4 linked regions of the Homo sapiens genome follow. The protein of the gene in region 4 purifies or fractionates together with the protein of the main gene of each other region. This does not show direct contact. Each region holds a gene or a part of one and is shown on either strand. Other genes may lie near its edges.

Region 1 (4,165 bases), on a different chromosome or scaffold from region 4:
AATTTTTCATTGTTAATAATTTTTCATAAATTCAAAAGCTATTCAGAAATGAAATGTAATACATTCTGATTACTATCAAAGGTTAGAATTATAGAAACAACCATAGCACTACTTATTTTTTAAAATCGTTTCAAACATTCAGAAGCCAAATGACTGTCCTTAAAGACAAATTAAATGGGTAAAAGGTCTTATCTAACAGAAGAATACAAAATTTTAAGCTTTGGTTAATAGATAATAAGTGTAGTGGAAATTTTTAAATTAACATCTCCCTTATATGTTATATTCCTGAGTTGTTGCTCAAATATCATAAAGAACTTAGTTTATAGCTTTATATAACATTGCATTTTATTTTTGAAAAACAAAAAGTATTGTTATTATTTGAAATGTGAATAATGGTGTTTAATAATATCATCATGGCCAGGCGCGGTAGCTCACACCTGTAATCCCAGCTCTTTGGGAGGCTGAGGTGGACGGATCACCTGAGGTCAGGAGTTCGAGACCAGCCTGACCAACGTGGAAAAACCCCATCTCAACTAAAAATACAAAAATTAGCCAGGTGTAGTGGCGCATGCCTGTATTCCCAGCTACTCAGGAGGCTGAGGCAGGAGAATCGCTTGAACCCAGGAGGCGGATGTTGTGGTGAGCCGAGATCGCGCCATTGCACTCCAGCTTGGGCAACAAGAGTGAAACTCCACCTCAAAAATAATAATAATAATAATAATAATATAATCATAACAGGATGGAGTCCCTTTAATTTAGCTTAACTAAGGGAAAAACTAATGCCGTCTGACCACTATTTGCAAAGATCATTTGTAAATTGTGATCAAAATTATATTAAATCTGTCACCAACTTTTATTTGCACCTTATGAAATCATGTTGATTTTGTAGTATTGAATGCCCTTATAAAAGAATTGAAATGATGCAGTGCTAATGGTTAGCACAAGGCCACGCACAGGGTGAGCGCTCAATATTACTAATTAATTTAAAGTGAAAATCTTTTAATGTATTATTTCTGCACCTTAACATGCAATTCAATGTAGTAGTTATTAACCCAAAAATATCCAAAAACATTTTAAACATGAAAATACATTTTAGTAACAATCATAGGAATGTTTACAAGTGGTTATTTTCAGTCTTAGTTTTATCAAAATAGAATTAAATTTCAGATTCCTTTTAAAAATAGGCCTATGAAAGCTGATTTCATAATAGCTGCTATATGTGATGTGGATGGCAGATTCAGTGCCTTCTCACAAGTTCAACCTATTGACACCTCCTGAACCAATTACTTTAGATTACAACATACCCCTTAAAACAGAGTTTCCCCTGAAGACTGAATCCGTGCATCTGAGGATTGGGTCCAAGAATGTGGATTTTTAAACAAGTAGCTCTCCTCTGCTTCCTGGTAAATTATTATGATCAGGTAGATTTGGGAAACAGTGCTTTAAAGCAACCAAAATAATTTTATCATACTTGAACATTACTTGATATGAATGGCATATCTAATGAAAAATCAAATGTATCAAGCTTTTTAATAATCTGCATAGCTTATCATCATGCCTATTTCTTACCTAAAAGTCACAAGGTTTTGTTCCAATTCTCTTGATAGCCCACAAGAGCTAATAAAAGTTATCACCTTTTTAAAAACTGCTGGTGATTGGGCTTCTACAGTTTTAGCATTGCATATACCTTTTCTTATCAGGAAGCAGAAGAGTCATATAGCAGTTGTATTAAAAAACTAAACAATGTGTAATTTATTCAAATAATCATACTACTTACGAAGTAGTCTTTAAATAGCTATACCAACATCTGTTAGTAGAGTTACTTGCCAAGCTGGTTATCAAATGCCTATTTCTTTAAAAAATTCAATTTACAAAGTATTATGTCAACTCCATGTACAAAATCTCATTTGCCATATAATGCAACTAGGAAGCAATTATATAACTGGATATGTGTACATAAAAATGTGCATAGGTTCATTCTAATTGATCGACTAGTAACAAATCCCTCTAAATTGAAAAAGGTAAAATAAGCAATGATATGGAGTCTCAAAAAAAGTATCATGGAGCACTGAGGAAAGTTTAAATTATTAGAGATTTGAAAGAACATTTAAATAGGATTAAAATAATAAACTTTTAGCTACTTCTGTTTTCTAATAAGAATATCATATGCAGAGAAACAAAACTGCAAGCTTATTAAAATGGGTTAAATAGCTTTTAAGCTGATTAAAACTACTTAATTTAAAATGAATTATTTTTGAACCTCAAGTAAATGATGTAATACTCAACAATTTATTAAAAAATAAACTTTAAAAGTTTTAGCATTAGTAAAAACCATTGCTAATACACAAAAGTGTATTATCAAATTCTATATTCACAAGTTGGGAAAGGCTTAATACCAAGTCCTGGTTCCACATTGCACTTCATATTCCCATCTGTATATCAGCAAAGTTGTAGAAGCTGTCTACATCTCCAGATGCCGTCTCCTTGCTTTCAGATACAAACATCTATTTTAAATAGAAAATTAAAAAAAAAAATCAGTACCAAGTACTTCAGAATGCCAAAGCCCATGTTCTCCACAGAACAAAGTTCCAAGCTAATTATTCAAAAGAAGTTCAAGTACATCATTTATAATGACAATATTTAATCTGTAGATTTTCTTTAGAATTCATGTAATACACTTTGAATAGCTATAATGTAAATTAAGCTCTTTTGGAAGCACTTATATAATTAAGGTCTCTGCTTTCATAATACTTGAGTTGTATTTTATTACATCTGGACTTTTACAACACTCAATATTACGGAAGCTACTGAATAAGAGTCACTTAAAAAACTCTTTGTTTCTTCTATTTTCTAATAATAATCTCAGTAGTCTGAGCAGCAAAACTTGAGATTATCCCTTTCAAAGCTGCTAAAGATATATTATTATTTTTTATTTTATTTTATTTATTTTTGAGACAGAGTCTTGCTCTGTTGCCCAGGCTGGAGTGCAGTGGTGCAATCATGGCTCACTGCAGCCTAGACTTCTGGACTCAAGTGATTCTCCTGCCTCAGCCCCCCAAGTAGCTGGTACTAATGGTGTGTACCACCATGCCTAGCTAGTTTTTTTTTTTTTTTTTTTTTTTTTTTTACTTTTTGTAGAGTCTCACTATGTTGCCCAGACTGGTCTTGAACTCCTGGGCTCAAGCAGTCTTCCCGCTTCAGCCTCCCAAAGTGCTGGGATTACAGGTGTGAGCCACCACACCCAGCCTGTTATTTTTAAATAAACTATCTGCTAAACATCAATGAAGCAATACTCAATAGAACCCTTCTAAAGTAGCTTTTACAAATGTCAGCAAGGAATTAGAGCAGATGTGGGTTCTATTCTAGCTTTATCGTAAACTAGCATATGATGCTGACAATTTAATAAACCTCTGTGGGCTCAGTAACTACACCTGTAAAATGAGAAAGCTGGATTAGATAATCTCTAAATCATTCAGCTCTAAAAGTCCAAATTCTAACCATTTTATCTCTCAGTTTCCTTTTCTATTCAACCTGGTATTTTCCCTCTCCCTTAGTACTACTGTGATGATAAAATGAGATCAAAGACAAAGTACTTTAATTTTTGTAAATTCAAGGAATCATAAGCCAAATCAGATGATAAAACCAAAATGTCCTCCCAGGTATTTATCAAAAAGTAGTCAATTATAGATTTGCTAATGTAATCCTCTATGTTTGGTTTTAAATTTATTTATGTCTGCAATTCTTAGATACAGCAACTTCATCAATATATTTAGAAAATGCCTACATGTGATGATTTCTTTTTTTTTTTTTTTTGAGACAGAGTCTCGCTCTGTCGCCCAGGCTGGAGTGCAGTGGCGGGATCTCGGCTCACTGCAAGCTCCGCCTCCCGGGTTCACGCCATTCTCCTGCCTCAGCCTCCCAAGCAGCTGGGACTACAGGCGCCCGCCACTACGCCCGGCTAATTTTTTTTTGTATTTTTAGTAGAGACGGGGTTTCACCGTTTTAGCCGGGATGGTCTCGATCTCCTGACCTCGTGATCCGCCCACCTCGGCCTCCCAAAGTGCTGGGATTACAGGCGTGAGCCACCGCGCCCGGCCTACATGTGATGATTTCTATGTATATCTGAAGTTCAATTTTTGGTGAAGCATTACTGAAGCAAGTAAAA
Region 2 (4,165 bases), on a different chromosome or scaffold from region 4:
ATAATAATATTCATATTAAACCTATTTGTGTGTATATGTGTGTGTGTATATATATATATGCATACATATTTTAATAATGCTTGAGTTCTTTCATTTTATATTAAAAATAAAGCAGTTCTACCTCTCCCCTGTGCCCCACCACTCTTCCAGATGGCCTTACAAAGCCTTGCATACCTGACTTGGGGGCTACTGCTCTAGACACTCAAGGTCTCGACTTCTTTGGTTATTCACTCTCTCTGCATCGTCAGCCTCTTTCTCTTGTATCATTCTCATGAGTGTACTGAGAAACTCTGGTGTTCTCTAGCGTCTTCCATCATTAGAGATTGTCCCTTAGTCTAGCCTTCTTCTTTATCAAAAGCTCCATTTTTCTACTCCCCTTCATAGCAGAACCATTCAGAGACATCTCTACATGCCATCTCACTTCCTCCTCTTTCATTCCATCTTCGCCTACTCCAATCTGACTTTCACCCCCAGCACTCTACTGAGATTGCTCGTGTCATTGCCATCAGTGATTTTCATGCTGCCAAATCTACTGGATCATCTGTCTTCATCTCACTTGGCCTCTCAGTGTCAGGTGACATAGTTGAGTACCCCGCCCTTCTAGAAATGCTCTCCTCTTTTAGCTTCTGCAATAATACACTCTGCTGGTTCTCCTTTGTTGAGGCTTCTGCTGCGACTCAGGAAATAGCTTTGGTCTCCTTTTGATATTTGTACTGTTTCCCTAGGTGATCTCATTCATTTCTAGGCCTTTAAAACCAAGCTGTGTGCTGATCACTCCCACATTGCGTTCCTCTGCCCTGCTTTCTCTTCTGAGCTCCAGATGTGTACATCCAATTCCCCTCCCCCCGCCCACCATATTTTCACCTGGAGGTTTCATAGGTATCTTCAAGGCTGCAGCTCTACAGTGAACTCTTCATTTCCCCCTTTTCTTCTTTCTACTATTTCTCTTTTGCCTCAGTTTTCCTTATTTCACAGAATAGTAAATTGTTTATTTAGTTGTTAAATCCAGAAATCTGGAATGTATTCTTAACTTCTATCCTGAGCAACAGGGAGAAACCCCGTCTCTACTAAAAATACAAAATTAGCCAGGTGTGGTGGCGCATGCCTGTAATCTCAGCTACTCGGGCGGCTGAGGCAGGAGAATCACTTGAACCCAGGAGTGGAGGTTGCAGTGAGCCAAGATCATGCCATTGCACTCTAGCCTGGGCAACAAGAGCGAAACGCCATCTCAAAAAAACCCAAAAAACCCCAAAAGACTTATATCTTTTTTTATCCCTTACATCTAATTCATAAGCACATCCTTTAGTTCTACCTACAACGTATGTATTTCATCTGTCCACTTATCTTTGTCTCTATTTTAGTCCAGACCATCACTTTTCTTCCAGATGATTGTAATAGCACATTCCACGCTCACATGTGCCTCTTTCCAATCTGTGCCTGATATTATAACTAAGAGCGATTGTATAAGATGTAAATCAAGTTATTTTTCTCCCTTCTACATCCTCCAGTGCATCTAGAGTTAGCTTCAGATTCCTTACCACGACCTCTAGGGCTATGTGTGATCTGGCCTCCGCCTTCCTCTGCCTCCTCGTAGCATGCCACTCTGTCTTTGGCTCTTGTGCTCTAGTAAAACAAGCCTTTTTTTGTCCCTAGAATAGGTTGGTCTTTTTCCTGAGTGCCTTTGGCTTCTCTGGTCTGTCTTTCTGGGAAGCACTTTCTCTGGCTTGTCATATTTCTGGTGCCTTCTTTTCCTGAAGATCTCAGCTTAAATCCCGTCTCCTTAGAGAATTCTTCCTGTTCTAATAAGATTTCCTGCTGGTTTGTTTCTGTCTTAGTACTTAACACAATTTGGGGTTGCTTTTCTTTATTTATTTACTTGATTTGGTAGAAAGCTTTGTGAGAACAGGGACCTTGTTTCCATCTGGTGGTAGGTGCTCAATAAACAGATGCTGCATGAAAAAAAAAACGTTTGGAAGAATACTGGTCTTGCCCTGCCTATCATGTGAATGGTAATTACTAAATGAAGACAGAGAAGGAAGGTATCTTAACAATGGTGGGCAACACAATACAGGGAGGACAGGTTAATGTGTTGATCATGTCTGACTCTTTCTTTAAGACAGCCTAAAACTAGGGAGGAACAAATCAGATCAAACGTTACAGAGGTAAATGTAAAATCCTGTGATTTGGTTACAAATAAATCAGTTGCATTTTACAGAATCAGGAAACTCCAGTCTGACACCGATTCACATGCCAAGTCCTAAGGAAAGTGGTAGCCGAAAAGCTAATGCAGCCCTAACCTACATTAATCATTCCATGTATTTCTGTATTAGGGAAGGGAATTGACCAATATTACTCTCCTCCAGTGACACCAGTAGAATTATTAGAATTTTGTAGAATTACAATGTAATAATACCTCATTCATCCATGCACAAATCCATTTATTCATTCCTTTACCATTTACTGAGTAAATTCTGGGCACTCATATTATAGTCATGAGCAAAATTGCCATGGCTTTTGTGTTCATGGAACTTAATGTCTAACTCCTGAAGAGAAGTGAGTTCTCTTTTTGTGAAAGTGTTAAGCAGAAACCAGTTTGTCATTTATTGAGACAATGCATTCTCATGGTTAAGAACTCGTGCCCTGGAAGCCAGGGGTTGGTGTCCAGGGGCTTTAAATTCCAGCTCCAGTATTTGCCAGCTGTGTGACTTTGGGCAAATTAATGTCTTTGGTCAGATTAATGTCTCTGTGTTTCAGTGGTCTCATCTATAAACTGGAGATAATAATACTATGCCTAGAGTTAAAATGAGCTAATGCACACAAGTAACTTACAACAGTACCTGGTACGTAGTAAGCACTTAATAAATATTTTAGATAATAAGCAGTTAATAAAATGGTGTTGAGATTTAGGGTGAGAAAAAGTGGTCACAGAATAATCCTGGTGTATCAGGACACACATTATTATTTTTTGTTTTTTATTAAAGATTGTTAGTAATTTGAGCTTGAACTTGAAAATCTTGACTTTAGAGTTTGATGACATTTGTTTTATTTGGTTTTCTGTTTTGGGCTAGGAAGATGTGACTCCTATTTAGAAATAGCCACCAGGTAGTCCCCCCACAACTCCCCAAATGCTTACAAAGAAACACACCTTTGGAAATAATACAATTGTAGCTATATATCAACGTCTGTTTTTGCTTTGGTTTTGTTTTAGTGGCAGCTGAAATATCCTAAACTAATTCTCCGAGAAGCCAGCAGTGTATCTGAGGAGCTCCATAAAGAGGTTCAAGAAGCCTTTCTCACACTGCACAAGCATGGCTGCTTATTTCGGGACCTGGTTAGGATCCAAGGCAAAGATCTGCTCACTCCGGTATCTCGCATCCTCATTGGTAATCCAGGCTGCACCTACAAGTACCTGAACACCAGGCTCTTTACGGTCCCCTGGCCAGTGAAAGGGTCTAATATAAAACACACCGAGGCTGAAATAGCCGCTGCTTGTGAGACCTTCCTCAAGCTCAATGACTACCTGCAGATAGAAACCATCCAGGCTTTGGAAGAACTTGCTGCCAAAGAGAAGGCTAATGAGGATGCTGTGCCATTGTGTATGTCTGCAGATTTCCCCAGGGTTGGGATGGGTTCATCCTACAACGGACAAGATGAAGTGGACATTAAGAGCAGAGCAGCATACAACGTAACTTTGCTGAATTTCATGGATCCTCAGAAAATGCCATACCTGAAAGAGGAACCTTATTTTGGCATGGGGAAAATGGCAGTGAGCTGGCATCATGATGAAAATCTGGTGGACAGGTCAGCGGTGGCAGTGTACAGTTATAGCTGTGAAGGTACAGTCTGCTCTTGGAAAAAGCAGCCCTGTATGTAATAATATGACCCGAGTTGTTTAGGCTCTGGAGATACACACGCATATACATGAACATGTTTGCATGTGTGCTTGCGTGTGTACATGCACATGCGTGTGTGTGTATCATGTGTCCTTTTTAGTCTTGTCACACCTGTATGTCTGCAGAATATGCCTCTTTCTCATCTGGCCATGCTAGCTGGCTCATTGTTATACTGTACTCAGAATATTTTCGCACGTAAGCACTGCTGTCATTTGTCTCTCTTGTGCCCAGGAGAGCAGCCTCTTGGTTTCATACAGCCGACTGTCTTCTCT
Region 3 (4,165 bases), on a different chromosome or scaffold from region 4:
TATACACTTTAAATGGGTGAATTGCATGGTATGTGAATTATATCTCAATAAAGCTGTTACTAAAAACAAAAGCGGTCGGGCGGGGTGGCTCACGCCTGTAATCCCAGCACTTCGGGAGGCCAAGGCGGGCGGATCACAAGGCCAGGAGATCGAGACCGTCTTGCTAACACGGTGAAACCCCGTCTCTACTAAAAATTTTTAAAAAATGAATAAATAAATTTACAAAAAAAAGCAAAATATACACTCAGCAAACGTTTATTAAACATTTCCAGTGTGCCACATGGTATGTCAAGCAAAGCCCAAAGCCTATGTATCAAGACACTTCTCAGCTAGGTGTGGTGGCTCATGCCTGTAATCCCAGCACTTTGGGAGGCCAAGGCAGGAGGATTACTTGAGGCCAGGAATTCAAGACCAGCCTGGGCAACATAGTGAAGCCTCATCCTTACAAAAAATTTTTTAAAATTAGCTGGACATGGTGGCTCATGCCTGTAGTCCCAGCTACTTGGGAGGCTGAGGCAGGAAAATCACTTGAGACCAGGAGTTGGAGGATATTATAGTATGCTATGATCACGCCACCGCATTTCAGCCTGGGCAACAGAGCAAGGCTCTGTCAATCAATCAATCAATCAATCTCCCAACCATCTGTAATTTGTAATATAGTGAGATATAAATCTTTATTTCCTAATAGACAAATATTTCAACTCCATTTGCTGAATTCCTTTCCCACTGAATGACAATGCTATTTTTGTTATGAACTAAATTCCCTATAAATACATGGGTCAAACTCTAAACTCTATTATATTCCACTAATCTATTTGCCCAACCTAAAGCAATATACACTGCATAACAGTGTTTCCCATCAGAGATGGACCACTTAAGATAATAACTGTGGTGCCTTAAGATTATAATGGAGGTGAAAAATTCCTATTGCCTAGAGATGTCTTGGTGATCCTGACTCTGTGCAGGCCTAGGCTACTATGTATATTTGTGACTTAATTTTTAAGAAAAAGTTAAAAAAATTTAAATAGAGAAAAGCTTATAGAATAAGAATATAAAGAACATATTTTTGTACATTTGTTCAATGTGTCTGTGTTTTAAGCTAAGTGTTATTACAAGAGTCAAAAAGTTAAAGTAAAAAGTTTAAAAAGTAAGCTAAGGTTAATTTATTATTGAAGAAAAATATTTTATAAATTATAAATTTCAATGTACAGTGTTTATAAAGCCTGCAGTAATAAACAGTAATGTCCTAGGTCTTCTCATTCACTCGCCACATACTAACTGACTCACCCAGAACAACTTTCAATCCTGCAAGCTCCATTTATGGTAAGTGCCCTATACAGGTGTACTATTTAAAAAATCTTCCATGCTTTAAAAAAAAAAAAGTCTTCCACGCTGTATTTTTTACCATATCTTTTATATGTTTAGATGCACAAATGCTTCCCACTATGTTACAACTGCCTGTAGTATTAAGTACAGTAACATGTTGGATAGGCTTGTAGTCTAGGAGTAATAGGCTGTACCATATAGCCTAGGTGTGTAGTAGGCTACACCACCTGGGTTTGTGTGAGTATACTCATATGATGTTTGCACAAACAATGAAATCACCTAAGGATGCATTTCTTAGAATGTATTCTCATCATTAAGTGCCATATGACTACACCACATTGTTTGAATTACTATAGCCTTAAGATATGTTTTGGGTCAGGCACAGTGGCTCACACCTGTAATCCCAGCACTTTGGGAGGCCGAGGAGGGCGGATCACCTGAGGTCAGGAGTTCGAGACCAGCCTGGCCAACATGATGAAACCCCATCTCTACTAAAAATATAAAAAAAATTAGCCGAGTGTGGTGGTGGGTGCCTGTAATCCCAGCTACTCGGGAGGCTGAGGCAGGAGAATTGCTTGAACCCCGGAGATGGAGGTTGCAGTGAGCCGACATGATGCCACTGCACTCCAGAGTGAGGCTCAGTCTCAAAAAAAAAAAAGATGTTTTGATGTCTGGTAGAACAAATAACCTGCTGCCCACTATATACTGAAAATATTTTTTGGTTATTCTTGAGCTTTTTCTGATTCTAAAGCTCATAAATAAATCTGCAACTTTATAAACAGCCCTACTGAAATTTCTACTACAATCTTATGAATTTATAAATAAGTTAGAAGATACTGCTCTACTTCATGCAGGTCTCTGCTAATGTCACCTAGAGTGAGGCCTTCCCTTGTGCTCTATATGAGAGTGGCTCCCCTGGCACTTCCTACTTCCCTTAGTTTAGCTTTGTTTTTTTTTTTAGAGCTTCTCATCATCTGACATCTATATATTTTACTATATTTTTCCTGCCTTCTCTTCAACAACCCCCTCCCCCGCAATTTACCTAATAGGATATAAGCACCATAAAAGAGGGGACCTTAATTTGTTCATAGCTCTACCTGTAACTCCTAGAACACAAAGGACGAGCTAAAATGTTTATAAAATAAAAAAATCTTCAACAGTAAACATTCCAAACGAGGAATACAGTATTACAAGGAATACAGTATTACACTTTTTTTTTTTTTTTTTTTTTTTTTTTTTTTGAGACAGGGCCTGGCTCTGGTGCCCATGCTGGAGTGCAGGGGCAAGACTACAGCTCACTGCAACCTCTGCCTCCTGGACTCAAAGTGATCCTCTTGCCTCAGCCTCCTGAGTGCTGGGACTACAGGTGCATGTCACCATGCCTGGCTAATTTTTGTATTTTTTGTAGCGATGGGGTTTCGCATGTTGCCCACGCTGGTCTCGAACTCCTTGGCTTAAGTGATCCACCCACGTTGGCCTCCTGAAGTGCTGGGATTACAGGCGTAAGCCACTGCACCTGGCCCCTCTTTATTTAGGTCTGGTCTTTTGGTAAAGTTTGAGAGCTTTCTTAACACAGATTTTGTATTTCTAGTTTTATTCATATTTAAAAATTTTGGAAGAGATGGGGCCTCACTATGTTCCCCAGGCTGGTCTTGAACTGCTGGGCTCAAGAGATCCTCCTGACTCGGCCTACCAAAGTACCGAGATTATAGGCATGAGCCACCATGCCCGGCCTTCTTTACATTTTTGTTGGAATGCTATGATCTGCATATTTTGTGCTCATATGCAGCCACTTTTATCTTAGGCTAGAAACAGAAAAAAAAAGAAAACCCTTATTAAACTTGAGAAATGAGTACAGACTAGCCTTCATCTAGTTCAGGACTCCTACCATACCCACACCTTTTTACCTACTTTCTAGTCACAAAATAACTTTTCATCATTCTGAGCACACCACGTCCTTCCATGACTCCTTGCCTCTGATGTCATTCTGAGGCAGGGCTGAAATGAGAGACACCAGAGTGAGACCTTGCTTTAATTTATTTTGATGCCAAAGCTACCAAATTCTATTCTAAGAGAAGATCAGGCATGTAACAGTGTTTTTAAATTGCCGGCAGCAACCCATTAGTGGATCATGGCCATCATTTAAAAACGCTAATCTGAAGAATATCAGCACATATCACACAGAGTGAGGTCATTACTGCTTTATGAAACTTCTGTTACATGAACATATATGTGATGAAAAAAACTTATATGTCACTAAAACAAAATTGGAAATACACTGACATTTATAAAATGTATTGAGGAAGAGAAACTTGGCTTAAGTGTGTGGAGAGGGGAAGATGGAATAGGACGATGAGGGAAAGGAAGGAAGTAATAGCAACAAGGTTCTAAGAAGTGTTATTGAAGTGTGAGTCAGCAAAGACCTCAACTGGGCCAAAGCAGACAAGAGAAAGAGTTCTAAGGAAAATTTACACAGACTCTACCTCTATAAAATGACACTGAACTATTTGAAAAAAAGAAATCATATTTGCTTTTACCCATTTTATTCAATATCATTTTCCTGAGAAATATTAAACATTAAAACTTGGAATGTTTTGCTTTAAAGTTGCATCATAAATCATTCTTACCTTGCTCTCTCTTTCTAATTCACTTCGCAGCCATTCAAAGTCACTGTATCTTCTTCTAACAGTAGATTCTTTCAGCTTGAAAATAGGAAGATTTGTCTGAAACAAAAAAAGTTAGTCCTAAATTGAAGCACATTAAGGAAACTTCAAAAAAATGGGGGGACGGGTATGGCAAAACAAAAGAAATCATGACTTTCTTTTTCTTTTTTTGAGAC
Region 4 (4,240 bases):
ATTGGTTATTCTAGTTAGCCATTCGTCTAATCTTTTTTCAAGGTTTTTAACTTCTTGGCCATGAGTTCGAACTTTCTCCTTTAGCTCGGAGTAGTTTGATCATCTGAAGCCTTCTTCTCTCAACTCGTCAAAGTCATTCTCCATCCAGCTTTGTTCTGTTGCTGGCGAGGAGCTGCATTCCTTTGGAGGAGGAGAGGCACTCTGATTTTTAGAATTTTCAGTTTTTCTGCTCTGTTTTTTCCCCATCTTTGTGGTTTTATCTACCTTTGGTCTTTGATGACAGTGACGTACAGATGGGGTTTTGGTGTGGATATCCTTTCTGTTTGTTAGTTTTCCTTCTAACAGTCAGGACCCTCAGCTGCAGGTCTGTTGGAGTTTGCTGGAGGTCCACTCTAGACCCTGTTTGCCTGGGTATCAGCAGCGGAGGCTGCAGAACAGCAGATATTGGTGAACAGCAAATGTTGCTGTCTGATTGTTCCTCTGAAAGTTTTGTCTCAGAGGAGTACCCAGCCGTGTGATGTGTCAGTCTGCCCCTACTGGGGGGTGCCTCCCAGTTAGGCTACTCAGGGGTCAGGGACCCACTTGAGGAGGCAGTCTGTCCATTCTCAGATCTCAAGCTGCGTGCTGGGAGAACCATTACTCTCTTCAAGCTGTCAGACAGGGACATTTAAGTCTGCAGAGGTTTCTGCTGCCTTTTGTTTGGTTATGCCTGCCCCCAGAGGTGGAGTCTACAGAGGCAGGCAGGCCTCCTTGAGCTGCGGTGGGCTCCACCCAGTTCGAGCTTCCTGGCCACTTTGTTTACCTACTCAATCCTCAGCAATGGTGGGCGCCCCTCCACCAGCCTCACTGCCACCTCGCAGTTTGATCTCAGACTGCTGTGCTAGCAATGAGCAAGGCTCCGTGGGCGTAGGACCTTATGAGCCAGGCATGGGATACAATCTTCTGGTGTGCCGTTTGCTAAGACTGTTGGAAAATGCAGTATTAGGGTGGGAGTGACCTGATTTTCCAGGTGCCATCTGTCACCCCTTTCCTTGGCTAGGAAAGGGAATTCCCTGACCCCTTGCACTTCCCGGATGATGTGATGCCTCGCCCTGCTTCGGCTCATGCTCAGTGCACTGCACCCACTGTACTGCACCCACTGTCTGACAATCCCCAGTGAGATGAACACGATACCTCAGTTGGAAATGCAGAAATCATACGTCTTCTGCATCGCTCACGCTGGGAGCTGTAGACTGGAGCTGTTCCTATTCGGCTGTCTTGGCTCCACCCCTGAGCATTTTGCATTCTAAGGACCTTTGCACAGGCTTCTATTCATTCTTTAGTGGAAGTTTGTGTGTTTGTTTCAAGAAGCTACTTTTTAGAGCAGTTTTAGGTTTACAGAAAAATTGAGCAGAAAGTACAGAGAGTTCCCATATACTACCCCACCCCACCCTACCCCACCACTAGTTTCCTTTATTATTAGTATCTTGCATTGGGATGGCACATTAGTTGCAATTGATGAGCCAATGTGGATGCATTCTTATTAACTAAAGTCCATAGTTTACATGAGGGTTCTCTCTTTGTGTTGTACATTCTGTGGGTTTTGCCTAATATGTCATGTCATGTATCCACCATTATAGTGTCATACAGAATAGTTTCACTGCTCTAAAAGTGCCCTCTATCCCACCTATTCATCCCTCCCTTCCCCTCCAAATCCCTAGAAACCACTAATCTTTTTTCTCTCTCTATAGTTTTGCCTTTTCCAGAGTGTCATATAATTGGAATCGGTAGTAGGTATTTAATAAAGACTTGCTTAGTGAATGAATAACTGATTGCCATTAGAACCATTCATATGAGCTCTGGTGAGGCTGAAGAGAAGGATATAGATGGGTGAGACAGAGAGGAGGCAGGACTGACAGGGTGTGAGTGGCCATGAGTGATGCAAAAGTAGCTCAGGTTGCTCCCTTTCATCATAGTCCAGGTGCCCTGGAGAAGAGACCAAATAAATAGACATTGGCATGATGTCCTGCAACAGCTTCTTCTTATGCAGGTCATGCAGGAAGAATTGCATGCACAAGCCCTTATCCTAGAGTCACTGAACACAAACCTCTACTATACCCAGTTGGAACTCCAGAAAGAGGTGAGTCCCTACTGGAGTGGGGATGGGGGTTGGGGGAAGAACCCAGGTCTCCATCCAGCTCTGCCATATAGCTCTGCCCTGGATGGCTCTGGGTTGGGGAAGATGGCTATTAAAATGTATGTCTTTCAGAAAGCTATAGTGGGAAATCTGGAGAAAATGCTTCAAACCAAGTTTGCTGAAACTGAAGAAAAGTATAAGCACACCATACAGATCCTGACGGAAGAGAACATTCATCTGAAGTGCGGCTGCTGCTGAAAAAGACATAGCTGAGTTCTCTTTAGGAGTGGGAAGGAGTTTGAGTGAGGAATGGGTTAGGAAGATAGACCAACTGCTCCCTAGTTATGTCAAGGCACAGGTGTTTTCGGGAGGGAGGTATGTCACTCTAGGCCAGTGACACAAAGCCAGATAGTTCACTTGAGGTGGAGTGGAGATGTGTCTATACTTCTCCCATTCACCTGTGTCCTTGTTTCTATGCAAAACAACACAGGACATTTGTCTTCCAGTTTCTGAGTTTGCTCAGTTCTATGACTGAGGGTGGTTTTTAAATCCATCTCCCCTGGGAGTCTGATGGTCTTGCCATTACATGCAGCTGCTTCTGGTTCCTATGGAAATCACCTTTGGATCAGAAGGTGTACTGTTACCTGAAGCTGCATCTTAAATCATTAAAATAAATTTTGGTCAATACTTTAATAGAAGAAAGTTATTTATTGCATTGATTTAGTAGAAAATTCCTCGTATAGGACTTTAGTCACCTGAACACCATACCTCACTAAATTCAAAACCACTGCAAGTAATGAGTGAGAGACTGCTGTGGTGAAGGAACGAAGGCACATTTCTCTCCCTGCACTCCAAATATCCTATACCCTTTCTAGCTTTTGAGTTGACATTGATACATCTTTCCTTTCTTTTTACAGGCAAAAGATAATTTCTAAGAATGAAGAAATTTGTGAAGGATGTTCTGGGAGATTGGCCTCTATTACTGTTTCTAAGGATGATTCTGACACTGTGCAAGATGGTAGCAAGAAAGGACAAGAATCATAAACAAAAAGTTGCTCTGCATTGTTGAAGATGGTTGGCACACCATTTCTGTAGGCCCAGGAAACTCCTGGGAGGGTTTTCTTGAGAAAATGCATATAATGAGTTTAGTTCTTGGGTTGCTCTGACTCTCTGAATGTCTGAAAATGTTTGAATTCGCATCTGAATTTCACAGCTTATCACGGACTCTTCACTGAAAAATGATGCTCTCCATACTGGGAGCTGAGCTTTCTCTGAGTTTTGTACTATTTTTCTTCTACCTTGACGTATTTCGTTAGAAAGAAACTGATTTGAAGGCCTTCTTCATATTGAACTTTTACTATATTTGGGAGGTGTACCTTTGTCCCCTGGGGCATTTAGGTAGCAAAAAAAGATGATGTGTTGATTTTACTCTAAAATATTTTTCTCTCACACCCATGCCCCCTACTTCCCTACCTCTCAATCATGTTCCCTAACCTATGACTTAGGAAGGGTTTCTGATGATTCTTACCACCTCCTCTGGACCATCACCAGAATTCAGACACCCACAGTGCAGGCAACATAAATAAGTGAAGTGGGCTAGACATAAGGAAAACAATTGCCCAAGCACAGTGATAAGTGGCAACCAACAGCAGCCTCAGTAGAGGGGCTTGGGCAGGGCTGGGGCACAGCGGATGGGGAAGAGTGACCCACAGAGCACTGTCCCATCTGAAGAAGGTGCTTCTCAGACCTTTGCCATGCAAAAGCATGAGGTCAATATTGTCAGATAGTATGATTTTTTAAAAGAAGTTATTCTGGTTTTTATGTGATATCTCCTAATTTTTAAACATTGACAACAAATTTTAAAAATACAACTGTGTGTGCCGATCATGGGAGACTCAAGTAGAACATGTCTGTAGTCCAGATGTTTTCCACCTGTGAGATGTCATTGGCAGAAACCAAAACCAAACACAAAAAATCTCCAAGGAGCAATAAGATCAAATTATATTTTATTCTATTAAAAAATGTTTTTGAAAAAAGATACTTAAATTTTAAAGATAACTTAATTCCTAATGATTTAAAATAATCCAAGCAGAGATGAAAGAGCAAATGCAAATGCATAAAAAG

The links.
Region 1: the proteins of FLACC1 (region 4) and RP2 purify together in Homo sapiens (affinity purification with mass spectrometry; one large-scale study listed by BioGRID and IntAct). This does not show direct contact.
Region 2: the proteins of FLACC1 (region 4) and FTO purify together in Homo sapiens (affinity purification with mass spectrometry; one large-scale study listed by BioGRID and IntAct). This does not show direct contact.
Region 3: the proteins of FLACC1 (region 4) and SNX3 purify together in Homo sapiens (affinity purification with mass spectrometry; one large-scale study listed by BioGRID and IntAct). This does not show direct contact.

Annotation. Positions count from the first base shown.
Region 1 is NC_000023.11:46,878,025-46,882,189, reverse strand, and holds part of RP2 (protein XRP2), read right to left. Parts: intron 2,505-4,165; coding exon 2,421-2,504; 3' UTR 1-2,420. UniProt on the Homo sapiens protein: Acts as a GTPase-activating protein (GAP) involved in trafficking between the Golgi and the ciliary membrane.
Region 2 is NC_000016.10:53,822,656-53,826,820, forward strand, and holds part of FTO (alpha-ketoglutarate-dependent dioxygenase FTO), read left to right. Parts: intron 1-3,208; coding exon 3,209-3,836; coding exon of another isoform or gene 3,837-3,866; intron 3,867-4,165.
Region 3 is NC_000006.12:108,218,997-108,223,161, forward strand, and holds part of SNX3 (sorting nexin-3), read right to left. Parts: intron 4,050-4,165; coding exon 3,954-4,049; intron 1-3,953. UniProt on the Homo sapiens protein: Phosphoinositide-binding protein required for multivesicular body formation. Specifically binds phosphatidylinositol 3-phosphate (PtdIns(P3)).
Region 4 is NC_000002.12:201,287,575-201,291,814, reverse strand, and holds the end of FLACC1 (flagellum-associated coiled-coil domain-containing protein 1), read left to right. Parts: intron 1-1,955; coding exon of another isoform or gene 1,956-2,029; coding exon 2,030-2,119; intron 2,120-2,248; coding exon 2,249-2,358; coding exon of another isoform or gene 2,359-2,374; exon of another isoform or gene 2,375-2,418; intron 2,419-3,033; coding exon 3,034-3,160; 3' UTR 3,161-3,544; downstream 3,545-4,240.